7 linked regions of the Homo sapiens genome follow. The protein of the gene in region 5 purifies or fractionates together with the protein of the main gene of each other region. This does not show direct contact. Each region holds a gene or a part of one and is shown on either strand. Other genes may lie near its edges. The genes, in order: NDUFA10, COQ8B, NDUFAF1, CPT2, AMACR, CYP24A1 and FASTKD1.

Evidence for each region.
Region 1: the proteins of AMACR (region 5) and NDUFA10 purify together in Homo sapiens (affinity purification with mass spectrometry; one large-scale study listed by BioGRID and IntAct). This does not show direct contact.
Region 2: the proteins of AMACR (region 5) and COQ8B purify together in Homo sapiens (affinity purification with mass spectrometry; one large-scale study listed by BioGRID and IntAct). This does not show direct contact.
Region 3: the proteins of AMACR (region 5) and NDUFAF1 purify together in Homo sapiens (affinity purification with mass spectrometry; one large-scale study listed by BioGRID and IntAct). This does not show direct contact.
Region 4: the proteins of AMACR (region 5) and CPT2 purify together in Homo sapiens (affinity purification with mass spectrometry; one large-scale study listed by BioGRID and IntAct). This does not show direct contact.
Region 6: the proteins of AMACR (region 5) and CYP24A1 purify together in Homo sapiens (affinity purification with mass spectrometry; one large-scale study listed by BioGRID and IntAct). This does not show direct contact.
Region 7: the proteins of AMACR (region 5) and FASTKD1 purify together in Homo sapiens (affinity purification with mass spectrometry; one large-scale study listed by BioGRID and IntAct). This does not show direct contact.

The regions. Positions count from the first base shown.
Region 1 is NC_000002.12:239,962,843-239,966,342, reverse strand, and holds part of NDUFA10 (NADH dehydrogenase [ubiquinone] 1 alpha subcomplex subunit 10, mitochondrial isoform 1 precursor), read left to right. Parts: intron 1-3,500. UniProt on the Homo sapiens protein: Accessory subunit of the mitochondrial membrane respiratory chain NADH dehydrogenase (Complex I), that is believed not to be involved in catalysis. Complex I functions in the transfer of electrons from NADH to the respiratory chain.
Region 2 is NC_000019.10:40,703,387-40,706,886, reverse strand, and holds part of COQ8B (atypical kinase COQ8B, mitochondrial), read left to right. Parts: intron 1-1,439; coding exon 1,440-1,562; intron 1,563-1,705; coding exon 1,706-1,791; intron 1,792-3,031; coding exon 3,032-3,172; intron 3,173-3,264; coding exon 3,265-3,346; intron 3,347-3,500.
Region 3 is NC_000015.10:41,386,853-41,389,674, forward strand, and holds the end of NDUFAF1 (complex I intermediate-associated protein 30, mitochondrial precursor), read right to left. Parts: intron 1,671-2,822; coding exon 1,596-1,670; intron 742-1,595; coding exon 592-741; 3' UTR 501-591; downstream 1-500. UniProt on the Homo sapiens protein: As part of the MCIA complex, involved in the assembly of the mitochondrial complex I.
Region 4 is NC_000001.11:53,203,324-53,206,823, reverse strand, and holds part of CPT2 (carnitine O-palmitoyltransferase 2, mitochondrial isoform 1 precursor), read right to left. Parts: intron 1-3,500. UniProt on the Homo sapiens protein: Involved in the intramitochondrial synthesis of acylcarnitines from accumulated acyl-CoA metabolites.
Region 5 is NC_000005.10:34,001,551-34,005,050, reverse strand, and holds part of AMACR (alpha-methylacyl-CoA racemase), read left to right. Parts: intron 1-316; coding exon 317-477; intron 478-3,500. UniProt on the Homo sapiens protein: Catalyzes the interconversion of (R)- and (S)-stereoisomers of alpha-methyl-branched-chain fatty acyl-CoA esters.
Region 6 is NC_000020.11:54,167,487-54,170,986, reverse strand, and holds part of CYP24A1 (1,25-dihydroxyvitamin D(3) 24-hydroxylase, mitochondrial isoform 1 precursor), read left to right. Parts: intron 1-1,298; coding exon 1,299-1,395; intron 1,396-3,500.
Region 7 is NC_000002.12:169,546,366-169,549,865, reverse strand, and holds part of FASTKD1 (FAST kinase domain-containing protein 1, mitochondrial), read left to right. Parts: intron 1-3,161; coding exon 3,162-3,500. UniProt on the Homo sapiens protein: Involved in the down-regulation of mitochondrial MT-ND3 mRNA levels which leads to decreased respiratory complex I abundance and activity.

The sequences.
Region 1 (3,500 bases), on a different chromosome or scaffold from region 5:
CCACCCTGCTCATCCTCCATGTCTGGGCTCCATCGGGGGCCAGGGGGAGTTGTCATTTCCAGCCCAGCCCCCTGTGACCAGCAGCCCTTAGGGAAAGGAACTTGGTTTGTACACTGAGTCAGCCCAGGTTGTCGGTGACTGGGCAGGGTGCCTCCCAGTGCACTGTCTAAAATCCCTTCCCAGCTCCAGGCCTCGCCCTGGAACACTCCCGGTGGGCCACCAGGGACTGACACACGCCAGGGTCATGGGTGGAGGGCAGCTTAGCTGCTTGGCTCTGGAAGAGGACTTGGAATGTTTGGCTTTGTAATTTATTGAGGTTTTTTTTCCCTTCAGTAAACTTCCTTTTTGATTTCTAATGGAAAATGGAATACAGGGAAAGAGCCTCCTGAAAGTGTTAAACTTATCAGAGCCCTGTGAATGTAATGAGTCCAAAATGCCTTGAATTTAGAGATCCAGCGAGGGAAACTCCGTTCGCATTGTACAGTAGAGGGGATTGCAGAGGATGAGCATTGGAGGGGTTTGTTCCTTTTTCTGTTAGGCGCTCTTTCTTCTTTTGCTCCTTAAGGATTCTTGGTTTGCTCACCCGGTGTATACTCGGCAGAAGCCCTGACTTCTGACAGGAGGAAAATGATTTTCTTTTCATTTTAAAGTGGGTGTACGGCCTTGATAGTTCACCTGAGATAGTTCACCGCATGCCCTTTGCATCTCAACCTTTGGACGCACAGCCACACACATGGGTGTCACGCACCCGGGCACCGTGAACGAGCAGATCCGGGAAAGCGTGGCTCGGGAGGAAGGTCTGACGAGGCCCGTTGCGGCTCCCGGAGTGAGGCTGCCCTGCGAGGGAACGGGCTTTGCTGCTTTCCTCCCTGAGGCGTTATCATGCGCGTTTTCTCATGTGATGAATGAGCACTGGGTTTTGGGGGTGGAAGGCTTATTTTAAATTAGCAGATACAGACGTGAAGTAGACATGTAAACAAAGTGGATGATTTTGCATTTTCCTGGTGTGAGATGCTGCAAATGAACCCCTCCCCCCCCGCATGGTTCTCTGTTGGCCTAAAACACTGAAAAGAGACCCCAGGATCTGAGAACCCTCCTGGGTATCAAAGGCCAGTTAACTGCTGCCTGAGAAGTCCAGACACAAACTTTCCGAGACAATTAATGGCCACTGGCTGGACTTAGCAGGTTTGGTATTCTGCTAGTTTCTATTATCTGCTCTGATTTAAAATTCTATTTGCAAAGATGAAAATGGAGCCAGACTGTCCCAAACCCAGCCCTTCCTCTGTCAGTACTGCTGTGAACAGACCTGCGTGGCTGGTCCTGTGTTTGGGTAAAACATTAAATGACAACTTTAATTGAAAAACCCTGGGGAAGCTGACCCAGGGCGTCTTAAGAGAGGCGCCTGCTGGCCGTCGTGTGGGTTTGCAGCAGGTTGGTTAAACGGGAAAACCTTTCGGTGATCTTTTGTTCAGGTGTCAACTTTCTGTTCTTTGGGCTTAATTCTGCAGTTGGTCCTTTAGGGAAAAAGAAATGAATTTCTGGCAGGACCACCTCTCAGATGTGGAACCAACTACAGCGTTACCGTTTCCTGGCTGCGGCAGTCGTGTTTGAGTGTGGTTCTGCTGGAGGTGTCCTCGCCGGCAGTGTTCCTGGAGGGCCTTGCTGCTTTCACAGCTCTCTGGCCTGCCCCTCCCTCCGGGTTTGTGTTCTTGGGGTTGACCCACACTCTCCTGCATCCTCGACCTGTTCCCCTGCACAGTTTTTTTCTTCCTGGTGTACAGATGTGACCCGGTATCTCCCATCATAAAAAGCAGACACCCGGCAGGAGTCGTCTGCTGCTGCTGCTGCCAGCTACCACTCTCTAGCAGCTTAAAACAATACACATGCATCCTCCTAAAGTTCTGGAGGCAGAGGTTCTAAAATCACGGTGCAGGCGGGGCTGGCTCCTTCCGGGGGCTCAAGGGGAGATTGGTGTCCTTTCCCTTTCCAGCTTCTAGAGGCCGCCCACATTCCTCAGCACCTGGCCCCACATTACTGTGGCTGTTGCTTCCATTGTCACATCTCCTTCTCTGATTTCTGAGGACCCTAGTGATGGCCTGGGGCCCACCCAGATAACCCAGATGATCTCCCAGTCTCCTGCTGCAGAGGCCCTTTTGCCAGGTGAGCTCATGTGTTCACAGGTTCTGGAGGCTGGGCATCTTGAGATAGAGATCTCCACCACTTCTTGATGCAGAGACCCCGCCTACCAGCCCCCTGCACATGCATGGGCGTGCAGGCATAGACATACGTGCCATTACCTGGCGTGTGAAAGGTGGCCCAGGTGTTGTGTCCCCTTCCTCAGCTGCTGACTGCTTCCCCGCTAGTGTGGTCTTTTCCCACCCCGCTCCTCCTGTCTTCGTGCAGAGCTAGTGGCCATCTGGTGACCGTGACGCGAGGCCCCGTATGTCACGCGTGGTCACACCCAGCTCCTCCGGTGGCCTGTGTGCCTCACTCCTCAGTCCCTCTGCAGCCTCAGGCCTCAGCCATGCAGTGCTGCTCTTTGGCCTCTTCTCTTGTCCAGCACCCTGGATGGTCGGCTCACATGGCGCTGCCTCCCTCAGTTACTGGGAGGTGGCTGCACAGCCCTGTCTTCTAAGCCACAGACGCAGGTTTCCAACTGCCCACGGGTCATCTCTATGGGGCAACCCGCCATGTAGCCCCCACACCCTGCACATATTCTATAAGCAGACCGGACACTTACCTTCCCTGGGGCTGACCAGCTCTTTCTCTCTCTCACCCAGGCCTTCCTGACCCCGTCAGGCCCTTTGAGGCCAGCCCCAGGTGCCCGTCACTGCTCCCCGGTCTAGAAATAGCACCTACAGCCCGTCTGACACAGGTCACAACTTAGGCCAAAGGTCTTGTCAGACTGTGAAGCCAGAAAGTCACGTCCCTCTCTTGCGGTCTTCCTGCCACTTGTAGACACCTGTAGTTCGAGCAGCAGTGTTGGGGGATCCCCCTGGCCCTGGAGGGTCCCTCACTCTCCTGACGCCTCCCTGGACTCTGCCAGACTAGCTGCCTGCGCCCCCTCCTGGGATCCCACAATACCAAACCCCCTGGGCTGTCTTGGCATCACTGGCTGAATGACCTGGGCTTTCATCTCAGTCTCTCTTCAGATTTCAAACTCCTGAAGGAGCTGGGTTTTTCTTTTTTTGTGTGTGTCCCAGAATTCTCCTGGCACCCAAACAAAACCGTCTGTATCCACACTGTATCCTGGGCCAGAAAGCTGGAGGCTGGCTGTGCCACCCTCCCCCCCGCCTTTAGATGGGCATTGATGTAGTTAGGATGTCTGTCCCTCCAGATCTCATGTAGAAATCTGATCCCCTGTTGGAGGTGGGGTCTGGTGGGTGGTGTTTAGGTCATGGGAGTAGATCCTTCATGAATGGCTTGGTGCCCTCCTGGAGGTAATTAGTATGTTCTCACAGAGTGCGCGTCGACCTCTCATTTTAAAGTATATGGCAGCT
Region 2 (3,500 bases), on a different chromosome or scaffold from region 5:
GTGAATTATAACAGTATGTGAATTATTTCTCAATAAAACTGTTAGAATGAGCCTCCAAAGAGCTTATTTATGTGGATTATAGTTATCAATGTCTACCATATTAGAAATTAAAACTGAGAAATTTTTAGGCCAGGTGCGGTGGCTTACGCCTGTAATCCCAACACTTTGGGAAGCTGGGGCGGGAGGATCCCTTGAGGTCAGGAATTTGAGACCAGTCTGAGTGACATAGCGAGGCCCCATTTTTACAGAAAGTAAAAATATTAGCCAAGCATGGTGGTGCATACCTGTAGTCCCAGCTACTCAGGAGGTTAAGGCAGGAGGATCACTTGGGCCCAGGAGGTTGCAGTGAGCCATGATTGTGCCGCTGCACTCCAGCCTGGGTGATAGAGTGAGACACTGTCTCAAAAACACAACAAAAATACAGAGATATTTTTAAAACACAAGAGTACACACGTACACATTCCATCAGCTGTCAGTCTGATGGTGTCCTCACATGTCCTGGAGCCTCTGGAGAACTCCAGTGAATGTTCTTAGACGCATGAGAGCAGAAAGGGGAAAATAACATCTTAATGTTACGATAAAAATAGTTTGATCTCTCAGACCCCTCTGAATGGTCTCAGGGACCCTCAGGGGTCCCTGGCCCACATTTCGAGAATCGTTGCCCTTCTCATGTCCCCACCTGGTCACTCCCCTCACCAAGGGTGACCTCTGTCTTGGCTCCTGGACCCTGGATTTGTTTGGCCTTGTTTTGCTCTTTATATCAGTGTAACTGGGTGATGATTTCATGCACCCGGCTGCTTTCACTCAGCATTACATTTTTGAGACCCACCTGGGCTGTTGTGTGTAGTGATAGCTCATCTATTCAATACTGTAGTAGTTACTCTTTGACTCTCCTGCAATTTGTTTTAACTTATGTTTATTTTTCTTTCTTTCTTTTCTTTTTTTTTTTTTTTTCCCGAGACAGGGTATTGCTTGGTTGCCCAGGCTGGAGTGCAATGGTGCGATCACAGTTCATTGCAGCCTCAACCTCCAGGGCTCAAGCAATCCTCCTGCCTCAGCCTCCTGAGTAGCTGGGACTACAGGCACATGCCACCATACACCCAGCTAATTAGAGACAGGGTCTTGCTTTGTTATCCAGGCTGGTCTGGAACTCCTTGACTCAAGCCATCCTCCTGCATTGACCTCCCAGTGTTGGGATTATAGGCGCGAGCCAACAAGCCTGGCCTCCGTATTTCGTTTTAGCCATTCCTGTTGGTGTGCAGATGATATATATTTTTTTTAATAGAGAAAGGATGTCACTGTTGCCCAGACTGGTCTCAGACTCCTGTGTTCATCCCGCCTGGGTCTCCCAAAGTGCTGGGATTACAGGCGTGGGCCGCCGGGCCTGGCCGCAGTGATGATATTTGTGGTTATAATTCTAATGGTTGTTCTCTCCCCAGAGGGTGGTTCTGGGCTGGACTCCAGCCCCTTCCTGTCGGAGGCCAATGCCGAGCGGATTGTGCAGACCTTATGTACAGTTCGAGGGGCCGCCCTCAAGGTTGGCCAGATGCTCAGCATCCAGGGTACAGCATGACCCTCGACTCCTGACCCCTGACCTCCCTTCTACCCCAGCCCTACCCACCAACAGGCCCCAACTTCAGATACTCACACGGGGTCCCTCCTCACCTCTTCGCTTACTTCCCCCCTGGTTCCACTGTCTCCCAAGACAACAGCTTCATCAGCCCTCAGCTGCAGCACATCTTTGAGCGGGTCCGCCAGAGCGCCGACTTCATGCCCCGCTGGCAGATGCTGGTGAGTGCCCAGTGGGGGAGGGCGGTGAGGGAGGCAGGCTCCATCTCCTCTGACCTGCCTGACCTTCCTGGCTTCACTGCCCCACTCCCTGCCTCTGAGCCTCACTTTCCCCATCTGTAAAATGGGAATCACCAGAGTACACACCTCCTAGCATTGCTGTGGTGATTAAAACAGGGAACAGCAGCCTGACCTCTCTGTGCTTCAGTTCCCTTCCCTGGGAAATGGCGATAGTGACAGCCACACCCACATCATAGGGTCACATAAATCAGTTTACACTGAGCACTGAGAACGGCCCCTGATTCACTGTGAGCAACATGCAGGTGTTAGCTGTGATTATTACTGTTTTTTTAATTAAAGGAGATCGTGTCTGTAATAGGTTGGCACGGCGCCTGGCACCAAGTAAGTGCCCAGGACATGAGCTGTTCTAATAACTGGGTAAGGCATGGAATCCAGGATTCCGCCACCCACCTGCTCTCCCATCCCTGTTCTGCTTATTCGCCATGCGGCCCCAGGCAGGTACTGCCTCTCTCTGGGCCACTCTGAATAGGACCTGGCCCACAGGAAGCCCATTGTAAATTTTAGCTCTTCTTGATCACAGTAACTGTGAGTTAATAATAACATATAAGAGCATAATAAAGGATGGTTGGCCACGTGTAATGGCTCATGCCTGTAATCCCAGCACTTTGGGAGGCTGCGGTGGGAGGATCATTTGAGCTCAGGACTTCCAGACCACCCTGGGCAACATAGTGAGACCTTGTCTCTACTAAACATAATAACAGTAATAATTAGCTGGGCACAGTGGCACATATCTGTAGTCCCAGCTATTCAGGAGGCAGGAGGATGGCTTGAGCTCGGGAGGTTGATGCTGCAGTGAGCCGTGAGAGTGCCACTACACTCCAGCCTGGGCTACAGAACAAGACCCTGTCTCAAAAAAAAAAAAAAAAAAAGGATTGTTATGAGTCTTAACTATAAATAATAGCAATCCCCACAACAGCCCAGGGAGTCCAGGTTCAGGGGACACAGGCTAGGCTGAGCCTCACAGTCTGCCAGTGCCTGGCTAGTCACTTGCACAAGGGAGCTCTCTCTGAGCCTCAGTTTCCTCATCTGCAAAGGGGGTGGCAGCCAAGAGCTTAGCCCAGGGCCCTGCATGTGGTGAGTGCTGGGGTTATCAACACGTAAAGCACTCAGCCTGGGGAATGAACTCTGCCACAATGATGATGGCTGTGACCACTCCCCGCAGAGAGTTCTTGAAGAGGAGCTCGGCAGGGACTGGCAGGCCAAGGTGGCCTCCTTGGAGGAGGTGCCCTTTGCCGCTGCCTCAATTGGGCAGGTGCACCAGGGCCTGCTGAGGGACGGGACGGAGGTGGCCGTGAAGATCCAGGTGAGAGGGGAGGCTGGGCAGGGTAGGGGCGGGCACCCTGCTAGCCCAGAGAAGTGACTCCCACCTTCTCTCCCTCCCTTCTCCCTTTACAGTACCCCGGCATAGCCCAGAGCATTCAGAGCGATGTCCAGAACCTGCTGGCGGTACTCAAGATGAGCGCGGCCCTGCCCGCGGGTGAGGCGCCCACCCACTCCTCTGCTGACCTCCCAAAGGGGCTATGCCCAGAGAGAGAAAGCAGGAGGGGGAGCCCAGAGGAGAGCACGGGCAGGGTGTGCTGGCGTTGTGAGCGGGAGTGTCAGAGACAGAAAGGACACCAAGGCGGGGAGAG
Region 3 (2,822 bases), on a different chromosome or scaffold from region 5:
TTTTTAGTAGAGACGAGGTTTCACCATGCTGGTCAGGCTGGTCTCGAACTCCAGACCTTAAGTGATCCGCCCGTCTCAGCCTCCCAAAGTGCTGGGATTACAGGCGTGAGCCACAGTGCCTGGCCAGCAACAGCATTATAACTTGTCTTAGAGAATACATACTAGCCAGCCAGGCGCGGTGGCTCACATCTGTAATCCCAGCACTTTGGGAGGCCAAGGCGGGCGGATCACCTGAGGTCAGGAGTTCGAGACCAGCCTGACCAACATGGAGAAACCCTGTCTCTACTAAAAATACAAAATTAGCTGGGCATGATGGTGCATGCCTATAATCCCAGCTACTCGGGAAGCTGAGGCAGGAGAATAGCTTGAACCCAGAAGGCGAAGGTTACGGTGAGCCGAGATCACGCTACTGCACGCCAGCATGCCAGCCTGGGCGACAGAGCAGAACTCCATCTCAAAAAAAAAAAAAAAAAAGAGAGAGAATACATACTAGCCATTGGTTGGATGCCATTAAAGAAATATTTTATTTTGTCTATATCATTGTAGATGCTAGTACCCTTAGATTAGTAAAACAAAACTACCATATGATCTTTATTTAAAAAGCCTTGGGTTAAGCTCTGGAGAATTTTCATAGGCAAATTCTTCTGTATGAGCTGGATCAGTAAACACGCCAATAAAATCTATCTCCAGGAAGAATGGACCATCCACTTTATCAGCCAAGGTGAATCCTATAGAAGAGATCTAAATTTAAAATACAGAAATTGATTAAAATCTCATACAGTGACGTACTGAGATTATTCCAGGAGTTTAAAATCCCATCAGGTGATGATTATAACTGGGTTTTAATGCTATCAGCCCTTAGCAAATACTACTAATTCTCCCATAGCATACTGTAAGAGGAAATACAAGACTGCTTTTCTTTCCTCATTCAACTTCCTCCCCTCTCCTCATTAGGTAGTGCCACTTAAGACTAGGAAGGACGGCCGGGCGTCGTGGCTCAGGCCTGTAATCCCAACACTGGGAGGCCAAGGTGGGCAGATCACAAGGTCCAGTTAAAAACCAGCCTGCCCAATATGGTAAAACCTCGTCTCTACTAAGAATACAAAGATTAGCCAAGTGTGGTGGCAGGCACCTGTAATTCCAGCTACTCAGGAGACTGAGGCAGGAGAAATGCTTGAACCCGGGAGGTAGAGGTTGCAGTGAGCCGAGATCATGCCACTGCACTCCAGCCTGAGTGACAAAGCAAGACTCCATGTCAAAAAACAAAAAGACTAGTAAGGACGACATGAATGCCTAATGGAGTTCCTTGAAGCGTTCATAAACTCTTATTTTAAAGCTAAATTAGGAGAGAAGGGAGGGGGGAAAATAGCTAAAGTAAAATGTAGGCATGCTAAAAAATGATCCTTCTAAAATTCCTTCAGGATGGGGGTATGGTTCATAGGAGAGGTCTAAGTCAGCCTCTGGCTGGGTATAAGAGCAGTGGCCCTGAGAAGAAATATTCATCTGCCAGCCTTCTCAAATGAACTCAGTCTCCCCAGAGTTCCGATTCATTAAAAATGATACAGTTCTGAGTGAAAAATACAGGAATATGTTACCTTATCAAGCGGAAGCTCATGCTGAACATCCCGGATTCTTCCTCGATTAGAGAAGAAAAATTTGGAAAAAGGAATCTGAAAGAAGAAACCATTTACTTCATAACTGAAATGTAAGCAATTGAGGCATCTGCATGTAATTGTAACGATAAAATGAGTTTACATTTATTCTAAAATTATGTCATATATGTATTATGACAAATGGCTAGCCATTTGGATCAAAGATATAACTCAGGCCAAACGATAAAGGGTTAACTATGAAAAAAATATTTGTAACATTTATGGAAAAAAGACTAGTATCCTAAACACAGCTTTTTTTTTTTTTTCTTTCTGTGGAGAATGGGGTCTCACTTTGTTGCCTGAACCCGGGAGGTAGAGGTTGCAGTAAGCCAAGATCACACCACTGCACTTCAGCCTGGGCGATAGAGCTAGATTCTATCTCAGAAAAAAAAGAAAAAAGAATTTTAACGTTTCCCTTCCTTCCTACATTAGAAACTGAACTAAAAGAAATGTCCTATTCCTTCTACTCTTGAACTTTCAAGTGTGCCTTTTTATTCATCAACTTTATTTTCATATTTCTTCTCTATGTAATTTACTTATTATTAAGCACGATCTTTTAAAACTATATCTGGCTTTAATTGTTTGTGTTTTGTTTTGAGATAGGGTCTCACTCTGTTACCCAGGCTGGAGTGCAGTGGTGCCATCTTGGCTCACTGCAACTTCCACCTCCCAGGTTCAAGCGATTCTCCCACCTCAGCTTCCTGAGTAGCTGGGACTATAGGCGCACACCACCACACCCGGCTAATTTTTTTTTTTTTTTTTTTTTTGGTAGAGACGGTGTTTCACCATGTTAGCCAGGCTGGTCTTAAACTCCTGAGCTCAAGTAATCTGCCAACCTTGGCCTACAGGTATGAACCACCACACCCTGCCTAAATAATTATACAGAAGCTCTCCAGGATATATTCCTAAATTTTAAAAACACAAAAAACAGGTACAGAGTATGCTAATTTTATTTATATTTTGAGTTTAACAAAGGAAGAAAATGGCTGGGCCTGGTTGTGCATGCCTGTAATCCCAGCACTTTGGGAGGCCAACACAATAGGATCAACTGAGCCCAGGAGTTCAAGACCAGCCTGGGAAACACGGTGAAACCAAGACTCTAGTAAAAAAACAAAAAACTTATCCAGCCATGGTGGTGCATCCTTGTAGTCCTGGCTATTCAGGAGGCTA
Region 4 (3,500 bases), on a different chromosome or scaffold from region 5:
ATTAACTCAAAATTACAAGCCAAAGTCTCATCTGAGTAAAGGCAAGTTCCTTCTGCCTATGAGTCTGTAAAATCAAAAACCAATTAGTTATTTTCAAGATACACTGGTGTTACAAGCATTGGGTAAATGCTCCCATTCCAAAAGGGAGAAATTGGCCAAAACAGAGGGGCTACAGGCCCCACGCAAGCCTGAAATCCAGCAGGGCAGCCATTAAATCTTAAAGCTCCAAAATAATCTTTGACTCCATGTCTCACATCCAGGGCATGCTGATGTAAGAAGTGGGCTCCCAAGGCCTTTGGTAGCCCTGCCCCTGTGGCTCTGCAGAGTACAGCCCCATGGTTGCTTTTACAGGCTGGCATTGAATGCCTGTGGCTTTTCCAGGCACATGGTGCAAACTGTCGGTGGATCTACCATTCTGGGGTCTGAAGGGCAGTGGCCCTCTTCTCACAGTTCCACTAGGCTCCCCATTGGGAACTCTGTGTGGGGGCTCTAACCCCATATTTCCCATCTGCATTGCCCTAGTAGAGGATCTCCATGAGGGCTTCACCCCTGCAGCAGACTTCTGCCTGGACATCCAGGTGTTTCCATATAGCCTCTGAAATGTAGGAGGAGGTTGTCTCTTTTTTTTTTTTTTTTTTTTTGAAATGGAGTCTTGCTCTGTCACCCAGACTGGAGTGCAGTGGTGCTATCTTGGCTCACTGCAAGCTCTGCCTCCTGGGTTCACGCTATTCTCCTGCCTCAGCCTCCCCAGCAGCTGGGACACAGGTGCACGCCACCACACCCGGCTAATTTTTTTTGTATTTTTAATACAGACAGGGTTTCACCATGTTAGCCAGGATGGTCTCGATCTCCTGACCTTGTGATCCACCCGCCTTGGCCTCCCAAAGTGCTGGGATTACAGGCGTGAGCCACCGCACCCGGCCGGACGAGGTTTTCAAACCTCAACTCTTGTTTTCTGCACACCTGCATGCCCAACACCATGGGGAAGCCTCCAATGCTTGGGGCTTGCACCCTCTGAAGCAATGGCCAGAGCTGTGCCTTGGCCCCTTTTAGCCATGGCTGGAGCTGGAGTGCCTGGGACACAGGGCACCATGTCCCGAGGCTGCACAGAACAGCAGGGCCCAGGAAACCATTTTTCCCTCTTAGGCCTCTGGGCCTATGCTGGGAGGGGCTACTGTAAAGATCTCTGAAATGCCCTCAAGACATTCTCCCCATTGTCTTGGCTATTAACATTTGGCTTCTCATTACTTATGCAAATTTCTGCAGCTTGTGGCTTGAATTTCTCCCCAGAAAATGGGTTTTTCTTTTCTACTGCATGGTCAGGCTGCAAATTGTCCAAACTTTTATGCTCTGCTTCCCTTTTAAACATAAGTCCCACTTTCACATCATCTCTCTGTGAATGCATATGACCATATGCTTTCAGAAAAAGCCATCTTGAATGCTTTGTTGCTTAGAAGTTTCTTCTGTCAGACACCCTAAATCACCCCTCTCAAGTTCAAAGTTCTGCAGATCTCTAGGACAGGGACAAAATGCCACCAGTCTCTCTGCTAAAGCACAGTAGAGTGACCTTTGCTCCAGTTCCCAATAAGTTCCTCATCTCCATCTGAGACCACCTCAGCCTGGACTTCATTGTCCATATCTCTATCAGCATTTTGGTCAAAACCATTCAACTCTCTAAGAAGTTCCAAACTGTCTGACATCTTCCTGTCTTCTTCTGACCCCTCCAAACTGTTCCAACCTCTGCCTATTAACCAGTTCCAAAGTTGTTTCCACATTTTCAGGTATCTTTGTAGCAATGCCCCCCTCCTGGTACCAGTTTTCTATATTAGTCCATTTTCACACTGCTATAAAGAACCACCTGAGACTGGGTAATTTATAAAGAAAAGAGGTCTAATTGACTGACAGTTCCTTGTGGCTGGGGAGGCCTCAGGAAACTTACAATCACAGCGCAAGGTGAAGGGGAAGCAAGGCACATCTTATGTGGCAGCAGGAGAGAAAGCGAACAAGTGGGGGAACTGCTGAACACTTTTTAACTATCAGAGCTCGTGAGAAACCACTAACTATCATGAGAACAGCATGGGGAAAACTGCCCCCATGATCCAATCACCTCCCTCCAGGTCCCTCCTTCAACACGTGGGGATTACAATTCAAGATGAGATTTGGGTGGGGACATAGAGCCAAACCATATCAATCACATTAGAGCAAAGCCTGTAACTGACAAGCCTCACCCCCATCCACATAGCTTCCAAGAGCTTTTTAATATCTCACTCATATCGAAGACAACACAGGATTATGAAGCATCTGAAGAAAGAAAAGGGCAAAGCAAACAGAAGAAAAGCAACTTGGAGGCAACAGACTATGAAGAGAGAAGAGATCTTAAAAAAAAATTATCAGAGATAAACTATTTTTAAAAAGAACACCATAAGAAGAAAAAAGAGCTTGTGGAAGTAAAAAATAGGAAAGCAGGAGTTTTAAAAACAGGTTGAGAGATTAAAATTAAGTAAGTCTCCCAAGAAAATGTAACAAAAAGAGTAAGAGATGAAAAATGTGAGAGAAAAGAAAATTAGAGGATGAGACCCAGAAATTCTACACCTGAATAATAATAGAGTTCCACAAAGAAAAAACAGAGAAAAAAAATGGAGAGGAAGAAAGCCAAAGAAATAAAACAAGGAAATATCCCAGACCTGAAGGATGAGATTCCAGATTCAAAGGACTCACAGAGTGGCCCAACACATACTAAAACACATTACCTGAAATTTCAAAACACTGGGGACAAAGAGAAAATTCTAAAAAGCTTCCAAAGGCAGAGAGAAGAAGTAGTCAAAAGATTAAGTCTCAGAATAACATTAGATTTACCAACAGCAACACTGGATGCTAAAAGACAATGGAGCAAAGCCTCCAAAATTCTGTGGGAAAATAATTTCAAACCCAGCCAAACAAATTATCAATGAAGTATAAGGGCCATTTTAAAATTTTTGCTTCCCATATTCTGTTTCCAGATAGTACAGGGAATATGTGCTCTGATTTAAAAAAAAAAAAAAAGAAAAAGAAAAAGCCAAGAAATAAGAAAATATGAAAGACAAGAAACACGAGTCCCAACATGAGAGAGAGATGACAGATGCCCCAGCTGATGGTGAAAGAGCACAGGAGAGCAGCTTCACAGTAGGCCAAGAGGTTCACAAATCCAGACTACAGCATGTCGCAAGTTCTGGAAGAAGTTTCGTCAAGAAGACCAAAAGGGATAGAATGTCCAATCTGCTTTCATGTATTGAGAGGAGATTCAGACAGCTTGGGAAGAGTCTGGGGGTAAATTAGTAAGCACATAGAAAACTAAACAAGAGAAAAGATGGAACAATTATTAACTTCAGAGAAAACAAAAAGTTTGTACTGGAAAGGAAAAACAATCCCAATATGCTACATGAGTCAGCTGACAATAGTGTTTCTATGATCATAATAGCATAAAACTAGATACTGAGTTACCCAAAATTACAAATCCCTAT
Region 5 (3,500 bases):
GCATTTACTGTTTTAAAACCACAAAATAAATAATCATTTTCTTTTCCAAAAGTAAGTGAGTAAAAACTTAGCAATATTTGAAAATGTTGGTTGGAATAGGTTTTAGAGAGGAAAACAACAAAACAAGGATCCTGTCTTGAGGGAAAGCCTGTTTATGAGTTTACTGACTAAGCTCAGATTTGGAAAAGTGATGTATACTAGCTTTCACTTAGATTATCTGCTGGAGAGATTGATTATTCCTCTAAGATGCTCACATATTTATTTTAAGAAGAGATTAAATTTAAAAGAGACATTAAATTTGTTTTTAATGATGTAGGTGTTCTCTCAAAAATTGGCAGAAGTGGTGAGAATCCGTATGCCCCGCTGAATCTCCTGGCTGACTTTGCTGGTGGTGGCCTTATGTGTGCACTGGGCATTATAATGGCTCTTTTTGACCGCACACGCACTGGCAAGGGTCAGGTCATTGATGCAAATATGGTAAGTATTAATTGGGGTAGATGCCTGCCACTTGTCCCTAAGTTTAAGATATAGCTGCTTAAAATCCTTTTTTTGAAGAAGAAGACAAGAGATAAATGACATTTGAAGTTTCAAGCCAGGTTACCAAGGATATCCTTTTCTTTTTAAAATAGACTTATGTCTTTTATATATCTGTTAGAATGTCATATTTTGATCATCTGTCCTTGGAGTCAGTTCTCTGAACTTTCTGTGACTCATGTGATTCCTACGTTGTTTTAGGTTGGTGCAAAAGTAATTGCAGGTTTTGCCAAATATTTGCCAACCTAAATATTTCAACAATTTTCCCCAAGTATCTCTTGTGCTTAGTATATCATTTTCAAGCAGTCGTCATTCAAAAAAAGTTCAAGAAGTCTCCCTCAGCTGGTAGAGAAAATTCTTAGGAATGCTAAGGTCAAATGGACCTCCCTGTCTAAACCTTCCTGCTGCGTTTTATAGGGGATGCTCTGATATCATAACACTTCTGTTTGTTCACTGTCATCCACTGAGTGCTTGCCTCATGTTCTGCTGAGCACATTCCCTGTGTGATTTCTTCTTATTCTCAAAACTGCATTTGGAATACCTTGTTGTTTTAAAGAGGAGGGAACGGAAGCATTGCCATTTGCTCAAGATCTCACAGCTAGTGGGTAAGAGAGCCCACTCCAGCACCACCACTGCGTGTTTGCATTTTCACAGACATTTGGAGGTGGGATGGAGAATGGATCTGAGGAGACAAGACTGGAGGTACAGAGACCAATGACTGGGTTATTGCTGAAGAGATCAGGGCAAGTACTAAAGCAGTTAATGGTAGAGTTGGTTTGCATTGAAGGGACATTTGAGGTATAAAATTGCTGGGAATTGATAATGGACTGACAGGGAGCGAAGAGGGAGAAGTTGAGGCTGGCTCCCAGGTTTCTGGCTTAGATGACCTGCTAGTGTCTTGAGGGAAGACTGCTGAACACAGTGGTCAGAGCATAGAGTGGCAGCTGACTACCTCCGTCCCAGCTCTGCCATTTACTAGCTCTGTGATCTTGGGCAAGTTACTTAACCTCTCTGTGCTGTAGTTTCCTTTGTAAAATGGAGATAATAATGACATCCACCTCATAGCATTGTTAGTTGCTATGAGAATTCAATGAGTTCATCCATTGTTCAGTGTGGGAACAGTGCCTGGCGTACAGTGGGCCCTCTGTAAAAGTTTGTCATTGTGGTTATTTTTACTAGAAGAAAAGGAACTCAGTTTTGGTCTTTTCAGTTTTAAAGTGCCTTTCAGATATCCAGGTGGGATACTTGAGGTTAGGGACTAGAAACAGATTTCGGAGTTATTTGGGAGCCATATGAGACTATGTGATCCACTAGGAAAGGGGATAGAACACCGGCATTTAAGGAATGCGTGGGCAGAAAAGAGAAGCAAGGGCTGAGGACAGCTAAGGAGAGAAGCAGAATGGAGTGTTGTCATGGAAACCAAAGAAAGGAGTGGTCAGAGGGTCAAATGTTGGTGGATACCTCAAGAGTTTAGAGACTGAGAGTGTCAACTGGATTGGGTCCTGGCTGATCTTCACAAAATCCATTTTCTACCAGAAACCCCCTCATCTCCAAAGCTTCAGCCTGCGCTTCCTTCTCCTGTTCATGGTGAATCATGACCAGCCCTGTACTGAGTGTGTGCCTGTGGGACACTGTCATCAGGGCACATCTCACACTTTCCAGTGTGCCCTCTCTGAAGTGTGTACCAGCAGCAGGGGAGTGTGGTTTATCTTTTGTGGGCCAGCTCTTGGCGTACTCATGGCATAGTCGCTGCATGAGATAGCAGCACCGGATTTATACCAGTACCCGCCAAACTCAAGACCGGTACCTTCCACAGGGCTTCTGTGATCCACACAGTTCCCTGAGGGAGACGTGCTACTATCATTGGCATTGAAGACTTGAAGGCTTGGCGAGGTTAACTGCCTTCCTCTAAAGCAGATGACGGGAAAGGGTCCGAAGCACTGCCCCAGGCAGTTGGACCCTAAAGCCACTGCTTTCAACAACTTCCCCTGCTGCCCCAAGAGCATGGTCCCTGGGGTCCAAAAGGAATGAACTAAGAGCAAACATGGAGTCTTGGGAGTGTTAAGGAGAATTTGAGCCTAGATACTTCTCTAGTAATAATTTGAATAATTTACTGAAGAGATGCAATTGATTATCATCAAATATAAATAAAAGGTGATTGCTGCTTTCAGCAGAATGTAGCTAATCAGAATTATATAATGATTAGAAGATAGTAAGGTTGGCTGGGCATGGTGGCTCACGCCTGTAATCCCAGCACTTTGGGAGGCTGAGGTGGGTGGATCACCTGAGGTCAGGAGTTCGAGACCAGCCTGGCCAACATGGTGAAACCCCATCTCTACTAAAATACAAAAAAGTAGCTGGGCTTGGTGGTACGCGTCTGCAGTCCCAGCTCCCTGGGAGGCTGAGGCATGAGAATTGCTTGAACCCAGGAGGCAGAGGTTGCAGTGAGCCGAGACCACACTACTACACTTCAGCCTGGGTGACAGAGTGAGACCGTGTTTCAAAATAAATAAATTAAATAAAGAAGATAGTAAGGTTTTAGGGTATGTGAAAATGTTGTAATCTTTCTTCTGGGTTCATATTTCCATTAGGGGCTAGTAAGTGTTTGCTAATTACACAAGGCTAAAAGAATCAGTAAATCATAGTCATTACTTCATCACTAGGACCCCTTGTGACACAGGCAATTGCAGAAGCTGATTAGGGGAAGGCAGATACCTTCTAATGGGCCGAAAGTTTTCACAGTGTTTAGCAGCAGAATTCCAGACCTGGGCCTGCCTGTGAAGAGCTGGAGGCTGCCTTATTGTAGTGCTGTTTCCTTGGAAACTGTAGTTAAGATAACTCTGGAATATGGAGTGCGTTTTGCTGTATTTACACTCAATCTGAGCCCACATGATGAGCACAGCGTTGTTAAATTAACTGTAGCATAAAGCTGCCCCCTTACGTATTTTAAGTTCCACCTAAAGGTT
Region 6 (3,500 bases), on a different chromosome or scaffold from region 5:
ATACTGGATAGGTCTTAACAATATTTTTGTATTATACTAAGGTATTTGGACATTATCCCTTAGCCAGCACGGAGTCAAAGGGAGTTTTAAGCATAAAGTAATCTCTTTTTACTTCTGTTCACTTTGGATGTTTATTTTGAACTGGATGCGTCCCCAGATGGGATCATATAGGTGAAGGATTGCAAACTCAGAAGCTTCCAGGGCTCACATGACTAATATAAAATAATAAGGCAGACCCAGTAAAAATTTCAGGAAACGTGATAGTGCATGCCCCTCCCAGGAGGGACAGCAGCCCCAGTTCCAGCAAACGAATGCCATGTCAGAATGCAGACCTCATGTCACCAAGTCTCATAATTATTATTTACATTTTTAAACTAGTAGTGGTAAATCCATATGTTCATATGAAACCTCTTGTTTTTTTTAATGGTAACAAATTCAAAGAACTTTTAAATGCGCTATGCGGGCAAATTAAACTTGCAAACTAAATCCACACATGTGGGCTGTATGGCCACACCAGCTCACGGCAGGGTCCAGGATGGCAACTTATCAGCTCTGTGTGCATAAGTGAGTGACTTGGCCTCTTTAAGCCTCAGCTTTCTCATCTACTACATGGGAAATGAGTAGAGACGGTACCTACTACTACTTGGTTGTCAGAGGATCAACCAATACACTTCGTACAGTGTTTGGTACCATATGGACCTCATTAAATGTGAGGCATTAGTTATTGAAAACTCTGGTTTATGAAACTGGCATCCAAAGGTCTTATGTGACTATCCCAAGGTCATAGACTACTTAGGGAAGGAGCTGTGTCCAGAATTGGTAGATCTTCTGGTTCCAAGTTCAACATGCTTAACATAACCACCAACCAATAAAGAGACGTTTGCTTGCCCAGATGTGGAAGGGCACACCTCAGGATAGCTGCTGCAACACAATCCTTGAGATGCTGGGCCAACAGGGACAGTTAGCTGATTCCTTTGTGGTTTTATTCCCCCATTCTGATTAGAAAAAAAAAATGTTTTCCTTTTCTTAAATTGCCAGAATTATTTTTAGATCAAAAGCTGAAACTTAAGCTTCAGGGTGGCTTCAGGAAAAGCTCAGGAAATAACCCAGGACGAGGTCATTAGGGGATAAGGTGGGTTCCCAGGGAGAATATATAATTAGTGTGACTTCAGGATGAATAACATTATGGCCAGTGAATATGCGATGTAGCAAGACCTGAAGTTAGCTCAGTGAGCTTTAAAGTTTTGTTTTCCTTCAACGGCTTTAAAATGTGTCTTTTGCGGTTGTTTTCTTTGAAGGTCTTGGCCGATTTTATGGGCAGAATAGATGAGCTCTGTGATGAAAGAGGCCACGTTGAAGACTTGTACAGCGAACTGAACAAATGGTCGTTTGAAAGTAAGTTGTCGTCACAGACTTGCTCACTGATTTTGCAGGTGATTTTGCGGATAAAACATGGCTCTTTTGACAACTCTTTTGTAAACAGGCATTATTGCTGCCTAGGGAAAGGCCAGAGCAGCCCTTTTAATGCTTCTTTTAGGTGCTTAAGTTATGCCTTGAACTATGGATTGTTAATGAGTCATACAACAAACATTTGTTGAATACTTGCTGTGTGTCTGGCACTGTGCTAGGTACTAGGGATATGACAATGAATGAAACGCATAACCCCTGTACCCTTGGGGAGCTTATATGCTAGACAAGGTGACAGTCAACAAGTAAACACATTTTAAAATATACTCTTCCAAGGAGTAAAGGAAAAGAGAAAGGGAGTTAAGAAAGAACATGAAAGGCAGGCATGGTGGCACATGCCTATAATCCCAGGACTTTGGGAGGCTGAGGTGGGCAGATCGCTTGAGGCCAGCCCAGGAATCTGAGAACAGCTTGGGCAACACAGCAAAACCTTGTCTCTACAAAAAATACAAAAATTAGTCAGGGTTGGTGGCACATGCCTGTAGTCCCATCTACTTGGGAGGCTGAGGTGGGAGGATTGCTTGACCCCGGGACGCTGAAGCTAAAGTGAGCCGTGATTGTACCACTGCATTGCAGTCTGGGTGACAGTGTGAGACCCCGTCTCAAGAAAGAGAGAGAGACAGAGAAAGGAAGGAAGGAAGGAAGGAAGGAAGGAAGGAAGGAAGGAAGGAAGAAGGGAGGGAGGGAGGGAAGGAAGGAAGGAGGGAGGGAGGGAGGGAGGGAAGGCAGAAGGGAGGGAGGGAAGGAAGGAAGGAGGGAGAGAAGGAAGGAAGGAAGGAGGGAAGGAAAAGAAAAAGAGAAAGGAAAGAAAAAAGAAAAGAAATAAAGAAGAAAAGAGAGAGAGAGAAAGAAATAACATGAAAGAATGAAAGAGGGGCAAGTCTTTTTTAGTAAGAAGACATTTGAGGTAAGTCCTAAAGGAAGGGAAGGAGCAAATCATGAGGGTACCTGTGGAGGATTGTTCCAGGCAGCAGAGAAGAAAGTGCAAATGCCAGGAGGTGGAAGCATGAGCGCCGAGTTTGAGGAACTTCAAGCTGCTGGTGTGAGTGGATCACGATGAACAAGCTGGGAGGAAGGGGAGCCTGTGAAAGGAGATGAGGTCAAAAAGAAGGCAGGTGTCCAACAGGGCACAGCTCATAGGTCCTGGCAAGACTTTACCTCTCATCTGACTCAGATGGGGCAAGTAAGGGAGGGAGGACATGACCGCTTTCTTCAAAGATTACTCTGGAAATAAAGGGCAGAGCTCACTGCCCATGGGGGTGCAAGAGGAGAGCAGGCAGCTGTGATCAGGTGGGACAGCGCCTGGCTGAGGACATTCAGGGCTGTGGGAGAATCTGAGAGGGCCACCTAAGCCGGACATGGCCAGGGGTCGCTTCACAGAGATGGTGCCCCTCAGCTAAGTCCTGATGGTTGAGTAGGAGTTCACCAGGTGAAAAGGGAGGAAGGAGAGTGTCCCTGCAGAAGAAGTGCGGAATGACAAGCATATCCTGTAACAGAGGCTGGCAGAGGGCCAGCAGCCAGCTCATGGAGGGCTGTATGAGCGGGAGTTTGAATTTTAGCCTGTAAGTAACCGGGAGCTGCGGGAATGTATTCAGCAGCAGTGTGATATATGGGCAGATTTACTGGGAGGATCACTGTGGCTGCTGATGGGAGGGATAGAAGGAAAACCTATAACACTTCCATAAATTCAAGGTCAGAAATATTGCCATAAATAGATAAATATAAGTAACTTTTTTTAATTACTTATTTGAGACAGACTCTCACTCTGCCCCAGGCTGGAGTGCAGCGGCGTGATCTCGGCTCACTGCAACCTCCACCTCCTGGGTTCAAGCGATTCTCCTGCCTCAGCATCCTGAGCAGCTGGGACTACAGGTGCACACCACCATGCCTGGCTGATTTTTGTGTTTTTTAGTACAGATGGGGTTTCACCATGTTGCCCAGGCTGGTCTCGAACTGCTGACCTCAGGTGATCCACTTACCTCAGCCTCCCAAAGTGCTGGTATTGCAGGCGTGCGATACCACGCCTGACTAAC
Region 7 (3,500 bases), on a different chromosome or scaffold from region 5:
TACTAATAGTGAATGAGAATGCCTGTATCAGTACACCCTTGCTAACACTGAGTATTAATATTACGATTATTTTAGTATGCTAATTTAAATATTTTAAATGGCCAGGCATAGTGGCTCATGCTTGTAATCCCAGGACTTTGGGAGACTGAGCTGGGAGGATTGTTTGAGCCCAGGAGTTCAAGACCAGCCTGGGCAATAAAGCAAGACCCTGTCTCCACAACAAAAAACAAAAAATTAGCTGGGCGTGGTGGCATGTACCTATATCCCCAGTGTGTAGAGAGGCTGAGGCAGGAGGAGTACTTGAGCCCAGGAGGTCAAGGCTGCAATGAGCTATATTACGCCACTGCCCTCTAGCCTGGGCAACAGAGTGAGACCCTGTCTCCAGAAAAAAATTAATTTAAAAAATATTTTAAAAGTAACTCAATGTATTTATTTATTTATTTTTATTTTTAATTTTTTTTTGAGATGGAGTTTCGCTCTTGTTGCCCAGGCTGGAGTGCAGTGGCACAATCTCGGCTCACCGCAACCTCCGCCTCCCAGGTTCAACCGATTCTCCTGCCTCAGCCGCCCGAGTAGCTGGGATTACAGCGCATTACATGCGCCACCCCACCTGGCTAACTTTTTTGTATTTTTAGTAGAGACGGGGTTTTTCCATGTTGGTTAGGCTGGTCTCGAACTCCCGACCTCAGGTAATCCGCCCACCTCGGCCTCCCAAAGGGATGGGATTACAGGCGTGAGCCACCACGCCCAGCTATTTATTTAATTTTTTGAGATGGAGTCTCGCTCTGTCGCCCAGGCTGGAGTGCAGTGGTGCCATCTCGGCTCACTGCAAGCTCCGCCTCCCGGGTTCACGCCATTCTCCTGTCTCAGCCTCCTGAGTAGCTGGGACTACAGGCACCCACCACCATGCCCGGCTAACTCTTTTTTGTATTTTTAGTAGAGACGGTGTTTCACCATGTTAGCCAGAATGGTCTCGATCTCCTGACCTCGTGATCTGCCCGCCTTGGCCTCCCAAAGTGCTGGGATTACAGGAGTGAGCTACCGCGCCCAGCCTCAATTTTGTTTTAATTTAGATTGTATTATTCCTTCCACTACTTCTATACCTAAAGTTTTTTTTTTTTTTTTTTTTTTTTTGAGGCGGAGTCTTGCTCTGTCACCCAGGCTGGAGTGCAGTGGCGTGATCTCGGCTCACTGCAACCTCCGCCTCCCGGGTTCAAGCGATTCTCATGCCTTAGCCTCCCCAGTAGCTAGGATTACAGGCATGTGCCACCACGCCCGGCTAATTTTTTGTATTTTCAGTAGAGATGGGGTTTCATTATGTTGGCCAGGCTAGTCTCGAACTTCTGAGCTCAAGCTATCCCCCGCCTTGGCCTCTCAAAATGCTGGAATTAAAGGTGTGAGCCACCATGCCCGGCCCCAGTTTTTCAATTTTTTTTTTTTTTTTTAACAATTATTGTCCTGGTGGTGGGACTCTTGCCATGGGGATTTCGGAATGAAGTAGAGAATGAGGTCAACTATGTCCTGTTTCTTTTGTTGTTGTTTGTTTATTCATTTGTTTTAAATGTTGGACTGTGTATCGGAAACAAAAAAGGAACCAATTTTATTACGTGATCACTGCATGCCAGGGCCTGACAGGTGATATCAGAAATTGAACCCAAGTTCTTTCTTCAGCGACAGCACTGGAAACATTGTTCTGACATGGACCTTTTGTTTCCCTGGGACTGTGGTTTTATTTTTGAATAAAAAATTTTGGCCTGTGCTTCAGAACAGGTCTTCCTGTTTTATTCCTTTATTCCTTCCACTATTTCTATACTTAAAGATTTTTTTTTCTTTTCTTTTCTTTTTGTTTTTGTTTTGTTTTTTTTTTTTTGAGACGGAGGGCATCAGGAAGTCTTAGGCTTTCCTGAATAATCCTTTATGGACCTGTCATCTTTGAATTTATCAAACTCTTTTTTTTTTTTTTTTTTTTTTTTTTTTTTTTGAGATGGAGTCTTCCTCTGTCGCCCAGGCTGGAGTGCAGTGGCACGATCTTGGCTCACTGCAACCTCCACCTCCCTGGTTCAAGAGATTCCCCTGCCTCAACCTCCTGAGTAGCTGGGATTACAGGTGCACATCACCATGCCTGGCTAAGCTAATTTTTTTGTGTTTTTAGTAGAGACAGCGTTTCACCATGTTGGCCAGACTGGTCTCGAACCCCTGTCCTTGGCCTCCCAAAGTGCTGGGATTACAGACATGAGCCACCGTGCCTGGCCTATCTAACTCTTCTTAAATTAACTTGTATTATGCCCACCTGTGATGTTATATATATTGGCTTTTGTCCTAGTTACTAGTTCATAACTTCTATAGCTCTTGCTATAGCCTTTTGTTAACAATGTTGGGTATGTTAGGCCTCTGGAAAGAGAATCTCTCTCCTGCCCCAAAGCAGGACTCTAATCTCCCTCCACCTTTCTGATCGTGGGTCTTAAGACGCTCCCCTGAGAGATCCCACCCTACACCCTGTGTGAGGAAATGTTGATGTCACGAAGCTCATAAAAACCCAAGAAGACTGGGTTTGGACTGCTTCCGGATAGCCGAACACGTGGAGGTTCCTGGAGGGTGGCATGGTCAGGGAGGGCATGGAAGCTCTGCACCCCTTCCCGCATACCTCACCCTACTGTCCCTTCATCTGCATTCTTTATAATATCATTTATAATAAACCTGTAAACATAAACAACTGCTTCCCTGAGTTCTGTGAATCACTCCAGCAAATTAATCAAACCCAAAGAGGAGGTCATGGGAAACCCAACTTGAAGCCGGTTGCTCAGAAGTTCTGGAGGCCTACTTTTGCAAGTGGAGTCTGGGGTTTTTGTGGGAGAGGTTAGTCTTAGAGACCAAGTTCCCAACCTGTGGGATCTGACACTGTCCCCAGGTAGATTGTGTCAGAACTGAATTGGACACCCAGTTGGTATCCGCTGCTTGGAAGAACTCCCACACATTTGGTCACAGAAGTCTTCTGTGGTTGATGATTGTTGTGGTTTGAGATTAGAGGAGAAACATAGTTTGAAAGAGGTTTTTTTGAATCATCATCTTACCTATTAATTGTACTCATATGTATTCATATTTTAATACATATATATTTTGGGTTTGTTGCTGATGTATTCTTTTCATTTTTCATTTTGCAGTTATTTGAAAAATAGTTTCATACCAACTGAGGTGTCTGTTCTGGTCCGTGCTATTTCCCTGCTCCCTTCTCCTCACTTGGACGAAGTGGGGATATCCCGAATTGAAGCCGTTTTACCACAGTGTGACCTAAATAACCTGAGTAGTTTTGCCACATCTGTTTTAAGATGGATTCAGCATGATCACATGTATTTGGATAATATGACTGCGAAACAACTGAAACTACTTCAAAAATTAGATCACTATGGTCGTCAGAGACTACAACACAGCAACAGTTTGGATCTGTTACGGAAGGAACTTAAATCTCTCAAAGGAAACACGTTTCCTGAGTCACTTCTTGA